2 linked regions of the Homo sapiens genome follow. The protein of the gene in region 2 purifies or fractionates together with the protein of the main gene of each other region. This does not show direct contact. Each region holds a gene or a part of one and is shown on either strand. Other genes may lie near its edges.

Region 1 (3,652 bases), on a different chromosome or scaffold from region 2:
AGCCACTGTGCCCGTCATTTTTTTTTTTTTTTTTTTTGAGATGGAGTCTTGTTCTGTTGCCCAGGCTGGAGTGCAGCGGCGCGATCTCAGCTCATTCCAACTTGTGCCTCCCGGGTTCACACGATTCTTGTGCCTCGGCCTCCTGAGTAGCTGGGATTACAGGCGCCTGCCCTCATGCCCGGCTAATTTTTGTGTTTTCAGTAGAGACAGCGTTTCACCATGTTGGCCAGGCTGGACTCAAACTCCTGACCTCAAGTGATCCACCTGCCTCAGCCTCGCAAAGTGCTGGAATTAGAAGTGTGAGCCAGCACCCGGCCCCCTTTGCTTTTTGAAATCCACTCCTGTGTTTCGAGCTCAACTCCACCTCTCTGAAGAATAACCTTCAGTATTTATTTCTAAAAGAGCCTTTGCACAGTGAGCCTCAAGCTTCGGCAGAAGTGGAGCCAGTCACACGGCTCTCAAGTGCTCATCAGACAGAGACCTCAGCCCACGTCGGCCTCCCCTCAGCCCACGTCGGCCTCCCCACAGCCCACGTCGGCCTCCCCTCAGCCCACGTCGGCCTCCCCACAGCCCACGTCGGCCTCCCCTCAGCCCACGTCGGCCTCCCCTCAGCCACAGGTTTGCTGCGAGCTGGTCACCAGTCCACTGCATGCTCCTCTCAGGGAAGTCTTTTTGTTCTGGTTGCATCTAAGATGTTTACTTTTTAATGTTTTGAAAATTTCCAATGATGTATCTAGCTGTGGATGTTTTTAAACTCTGGACTTCTTGGAGTTTCCTGTATTTCATGAACTCTGGAAAGTCCTCAGTCTTCCCTTTCTCCTTTCTTGCTCTCTTCTCCTTCTGGAACTTGTACTGGACATGGGCTGGCATCGCCTCCTCCCTGGGCCGCACATCTCTTCCCAACACTGCTCCTCTCTTCAGCTGAGTTAGTGCTGCTTCTCGTGCTGCTTCTCCTGCTGCTGACTGATTTAACGTTAATGACTATGTTTTTCATTTCTAGAGGTTTTCATTCTGTTTCTTTTTCAAACATAAACTGTCTGCTCATGGTTTTTTGTATTTATAATTGACATAATAATTGCACATATCATGGGCATACAGTCTTGACTAGTCTTAAGATTGCTTCCTTTTACATCTTTATCAATTTTAACATACATTTGTTTTCTATTATCTTCACATTTTGAGAATGAAGAGTCTTATTTTCTCTCCCTTGAAATGAAATTTACTCCTTTTAAAAGCTAATTACCCATATACACACCTACTATATGGCCACAAACTCTTTTTTAAAAAAGCTAATTACAAGAAATCCTGTAACATCAGAAATAAGGCAAGTAAAATAATCTGATTTAATTATTTTAAAAAATTACCCCCCCCCCCTTTTTTTTGAGACAGAGTCTCACTCTGTCACCCAGGCTGGAGTGCAGTGGCGCGATCTCGACCCACTGCAACCTCCACCTCCCAGGCTCAAGCAATTCTCCTGCCTCCGCCTCCTGAGTAGCTGGGATTACAGGCATGTGCCCATCACACCCAGCTAATTTTTGTTATTTTTAGTAGAGACAGGGTTTTGCCATGTTGGCCAGGCTGGTCTCAAACTCCTGACCTCAAGTGATCCACCAACCTCGGCCTCCCAAAGTGCTGGGATTACAGGAGTGAGGCACCATGCCCAACTTAACCTCTACTTTTAAGTTAAAAAGTTAGGCTGGTCGCAGTGGCTCTCTCCTGTAATGCCAGCACTTTGGGAGGCCAAGGCAGATGGATCGCTTGGGCCCAGGAGTTTGAGACCAGCCTGGGCAACATGGTGAAACACTGTCTCTACAAAAATTACAAAACTCAGCCAGGCATGGTGGCGTGCACCTGTAGTCCCAGCTACTCAGGAGGCTGAGGTGGGAAGATTGCTTGAGCCAGGGAGGTGAAGGCTGCAGTGAGTCAAGATTGCGCCACTGCACTCCAGTTCAGGCGAAAGAGCAAGACCCTAAATAAATAAAATCAATTTCAGAATCTTTTTTTTCTCCTGCTGGTCCCTTGATCTTGGGTTTTCTTTTTTTCTGCTTAACTTCAGAATCTTAAATGTTGGCTGCAATAAGCTAAGTGATTCTCCTGGAAAACCTTTAGGATTCATCCAAGAAACGCTAAGAAGCCCTGTACTTACCTGTACTTAACCTCATGGTAAACCTGCTCTTTTACTAAACGGGATGTGAACACGACCTCTGTTCTAAGCTTGTTTTAGAAGATACAATGCAGAAAACACAGAGCTCTATTTGAGGCCCTGAGCCTTTCTTACCCTGATTCAATTTAACTCCTTCACATTCCTGCAGCTTTCCTGCAAAATATGGAATAATTTTCTTACATTTTCATACCAAGAAGAGCTTATGATTTATCTCAGATGCATGAAGGTTTAACTCCTAACCAGGCCCTCTCACAGTGCCAGCAGCATCTCCTGGGCCCATTACAAGGGCCCAGCCACCTCCCCACCCTGACAGCCTGTGCTGCAGCTGGTGTCAGCCACACCTTGCTCCTCTCCCACTCTGCACCCTGCAAAGATTTCCCATCCTCAGCAGCTTCAGACTACTTGGTGTCGAGGCAGGTAAAAACCAAGGTGACCCCAAGAAAATGGCTGCTCCCCCAAAGGAGGCAGAAGGAGGAAGTGAAGATGAGGAAATGTCAGAAGATGAAGAAGATGACAGCTGTGGAGAAGAGACTGTCACACCTCAGGAGAAAGGCAAGAAGGCTGCTGCAACCCCAGCCAAGAAGGTGACAGTTTCCCGAACAAAAAAGGCTGCAGGTGCCACACCCACCAAGAAAGCAACTGTCACTCCAGGCAAAGCAGTCGCCACACCTGCCAAGAAGGGAGCCATAGCAGGCAAAGCACTGGCAGCAGCTCCTGGCAAGAAGGGACACCCCAGCCAAGGGGGCAAAGAACGGCAAGAACGCCAAGAAGGAAGACAGCGATGAGGAGGAGGATGACTCTGAACCAGCAGTGATGAAGGCAGCAGCGGGTGCCCCTGCCTCAGGGGATGAGGACGAGGACGATGAGGACGATGCTGAGGAAGATGGCTCTGAAGCAGCACCTATGGAAACAACACCAGCCAAAGGAAAGAAAGCTTCTACAAATGCTGTTCCTGGGAAAGCCAAGAGGATGGCTGGGAATGAAGATGAAGAGGATGATGAGGACAAGGACGAGGGTGACGATGATGAAGAGGATGAAGTGATGAAGACGACAAAGAGGAGGAAGGGTCTGTCAAAGAAGCACCTGGAAAATGAAGGAAATGACCAAACAGCAGCTTCTGAAGCCAAGAAACACAAAGTGGAGAGTGAGAAGCACAGAACCAACTGTGCCTTTTTTTTTTTTTTAAGACAGGGTCTCACTCTCTCGCCCAGGTTGGACTGCAGTGGCGCAATCTTGGCTCACTGCAACCTTCACCTGCCAGGCTCAAGTGATTCTCCTGCTTCAGCCTCCTGAGTAGCTGGGATTACAGGCGTGTACCACTACCACCCGGCTAATTTTTGTATTTTTAGTAGAGACGGGGTTTCACCATGTTGGCCAGGCTGGAACGTCTTTCAATCTTTGTTGGAAACCTGAACTTTAACAAGTCTGCTCCTGAGTTAAAAACTAGTATCCATGGGCCAGGCCTGGTGGCTCACGCCTGTAATCCCA
Region 2 (3,652 bases):
AATTATGCTAAATGCATCATTACTATTACTACAACAGAATAAAAATGTTGTAATAGATCTGAAATAATCTTATCTCTGCATGTATTAGAATTGAACTCATGACAAAAGGCACTGATAAATTCATCACTCAAGTATCCCACAGTTTTAGAGTAAACAAACTATGAAACTTTTTCTTGGCAGATCATCATCTTTACTAAAGTTGAAACTTTTACATGACAGGGAAATATAACCAGAACTCTAAATAAAGTACTTTACATCAGCTAGTTCCTCACCAGTCTTTGGTTAAATTATTATTTCAGCTTCATTAGTCTTTAATTTTCGTGATTGTCTGGGCAACTGAATGCTTCTACCCAAGAGTTTGAATCTGAGGCAACTGACTTAATAGATCTGAGGCAAGTGACACAATAAAGTGGGGAAAGTTAATTCATTCTGCTGTCAGGATCCAGTTTCCAGGGGCACTGATGTCACTGGCAGTAGCAGCCCTAACCAGGTTTGGGCTTGTGCAGGATCTTGGATATGGGTTCCCTGGGTCATTTCTATTTTCTGACCCTTATTATGCAGGCTTTGCTTAGATTCACTGAGCTAGCTGATATCTTTCCTTTTCTGCTTAAGTTAACTAGTCAGTTTCTATCGTTTGGAATAAGAACCCTGGCTGATATAACGGTACTCAAAATCCATGTCAAAGTGACTATAGTAGAGCTATATTGTGAGGTCCTTACTCAGCTAAGTTACCTACTTCCCTGCCTTGGGCTCCCGTGCAGTTCTTGGCTCCATTCCTTTTTGAAGTTTGCTAAGGCTGTTCAGAGTAATACAGTGTGCCCACCTCAAAATTTTCCTTTCTAATCATGACCTGCAATCCAAAAGGCATTATATAAAAACTTATAAATTTGACATTGGAAAAAAACTGAATGGCAAAAACCACCAAAAGCAAACTCAAAAGACACGTGGAAACTTGAGGAAAAAATATTTGCGCCTCATAGGACCAAAAAAGAGCAATTATCCCTATGTATATATCTCAGCAAATCATTAAGAAAAAGATCAGTAACCAACAGGAAAAAAATGGGCAAAGGATGTTCACAGAAACGGAAATAGAAATGACTCTCAAACATGTGGAGATATGCTCAGTCTTACTTAAAACAGGTAAAATGTACACTAAAAACTATACTGGGATTCCATTTTCACTTATCAGAATCGCAAAGATTGAAAGGTTGAAGGAAGTGTAGGGGGGCATACTCTCATACATTGCTGGCAGGAGCATAAATTAGTACTATCTCTTATGGAAAGCAGGCTGACAAAACCTGTCAGAATTACAAGTGTACATACCTCTCTGACACAACAATCTCACATTTGGGAATTAGTTCTCCCAATTTATGTGCACAAATGCATACTGACTTATGTACAATGTTATTCACTATAGCATTGTTTTTAATAGGGACAGAGTAGAAATAATTTAAATATCAATACGGAACTGGCTAAATCAATTACGGTATGAAATAATGGGGATGGTTTTTATTTAATGATGTCATGATCGCTAAGATATACTGTAAAAAGAAAAAAAGCAAGGTGCAGAACAGTGTTTATGGCATGCTGCCATTCGTATAAAAAAAAGAAGATGATAGAGCAGGAGCACTGTCATCTGGGACAAACACCACCACTTTAAATTCCAGCTCCCTTTCTAGCCTCATGCATTTCAAGGAAATTACTTCTCTTCTAATTGTAAGCAGCCAGAAAGAACAGACAATAACATACAGATAAGACAGCTGGGCACAAAGGGAGGTGGGGGGAAAGTCTCTTGAGCAACTGCCAAACTTCACCCTCATACAATGGGCCCCAGTAAAATAGTGGGCCTTAATAAGCACATTCCTTTCCCTTCAGGTGCACTAGGATAGAAAAGCTACATGCAGACTGATAGGCCTGCAGCTGCAGAAAGATGTATGGGAACAGACACACAACTCTCCCTCCCAGATAAGCACAACAAAGAGTCAGAGAAGCAGTCCAAGCCTCTGATAAACTCTCCCACCCTGAATCTTTAAAAACTCTTAGTTTGTAAGTGAGTGTGCCTCTGACCTAACTTGGCCAGAAGGCACCTCTCACGTTTGTTTTCTCTAAATAAATCTGTCCTGACTGGCGAGCCATCTTTTCATGTTTCTTACCTCTTTCTTTAATTCTTACAGAAGATATTAGACATACCTCTGTAAGGATATAGATTGGTTACTTGAAGAAAGAAAACTAAGTCCAGACAGAGAAGGACTTGAGTAAGAGACATGTCACTATATACCTTTTGGCAGTTTTAAAATGTGAAAGGTGATTAAATTACCCTTTCAAAAACCAATCTGGAAAATCTCCCTCAAACAAACAAAACTGTAACACTAAGAAAAGTAACTGTCAAGTAAACATTATCTGACAAAAGGCAATTATTGCATTTGTAAATTCTTCAGAGAGGTTACATTGCAGACTTTCAATAAAATTTTATTAATTCATGATGTCAGAGTCTTCATTCTTATACTTGCTAAATATTAAGGGCTTACTCTGAATCTAGTATTCTGTTAAACAACTTGGGTGATAGTGGGAGGAATCAGGTAATTGGGCTGGTCCTTTTTCTTCCAGTAACTTAAAGTAGCCATATAATTTTGAATCCAACTCAGTGCTTACCATGATGGAGAGTTGCTAAGAGGTGCTCAACAAATACTTATTGATTTGAGGTTATAAGCTTAAGAAAATACAGTCATGTTTCATTTAATGACAGGGATACATTCTGAGAAATGTGTTGTTAGGCACAACACAGAAATTTTGTCCTTGTGGCAACATCATGGTGTACATAAATCTGGGTGATATAGCCTGCTATACACCTAGGCTATATGGTATAGCCTACTGCTCCTAAGCTACAAACTTGTACCGTATGTCACTGTATTGATACTACAAGCAGTTGTAACACAATGGTGAGTACTTGTGTATCTAAACATACCTAAACATTGAAAAGGTACAGTAAAAATAAGAGTATTATAATCTTATGGGACCACCATTGTATATGCAGTCAGTTATTGACCAAAACATCATTTTGTGGTGCATGACTATACTTCAGAAGTTGGAAACTGGCAACTTCTCTAGACCCCAGTTGCCAGCTAAGAAATACGCGTGTGCGTATACACACACACTCAATTTATTTGTCAAAATTCTTCAAGCCAAACATTTGTGATCTGTGCTGTTTTTAAAACATGTAAATTATGTCTTAGCAGTTAGCACAAAAGAAAAAAAATTTTAAAGTTAACAGTAGACAACGAAGAAACAGAAAATATTGAGAAAACCAAAAAGAAGGGACAAAAATAAAAGGACTGAGAAAAATTGAGAGAAAGATGGCGAGTCCTCAACACTTGCTTCAGGTTGGTCAGTGGTCCGCAAAGGAATGTCATATTCGATTTAAATTTATTTCCTTGAAATTTTACATCACCTATCTTTCCAAAGGCAACAACTTAGTCACTGGGAATTTTAACAGTGATGCTTAGAACTTAATATATTTTTCCTATTGTCTATTTTGGAATTTAGGGAAGCCTGACATTTTCATTACATTAAAATATTTCCTAGAATCGCTTAAATTTAAACATATACAGCTTAAGTAACTAAGTTTTTTAGTACTAAGTAATTAGAAATTGCA

What was found. The genes of interacting proteins can lie anywhere in the genome.
Region 1: the proteins of SREK1IP1 (region 2) and RABL6 purify together in Homo sapiens (affinity purification with mass spectrometry; one large-scale study listed by BioGRID and IntAct). This does not show direct contact.

What each region holds. Positions count from the first base shown.
Region 1 is NC_000009.12:136,814,447-136,818,098, reverse strand, and holds part of RABL6 (rab-like protein 6), read right to left. Parts: intron 3,617-3,652; exon of another isoform or gene 3,549-3,616; intron 3,330-3,548; exon of another isoform or gene 2,568-3,329; intron 1-2,567. UniProt on the Homo sapiens protein: May enhance cellular proliferation. May reduce growth inhibitory activity of CDKN2A.
Region 2 is NC_000005.10:64,758,631-64,762,282, forward strand, and holds part of SREK1IP1 (protein SREK1IP1), read right to left. Parts: intron 851-3,652; exon of another isoform or gene 1-850. UniProt on the Homo sapiens protein: Possible splicing regulator involved in the control of cellular survival.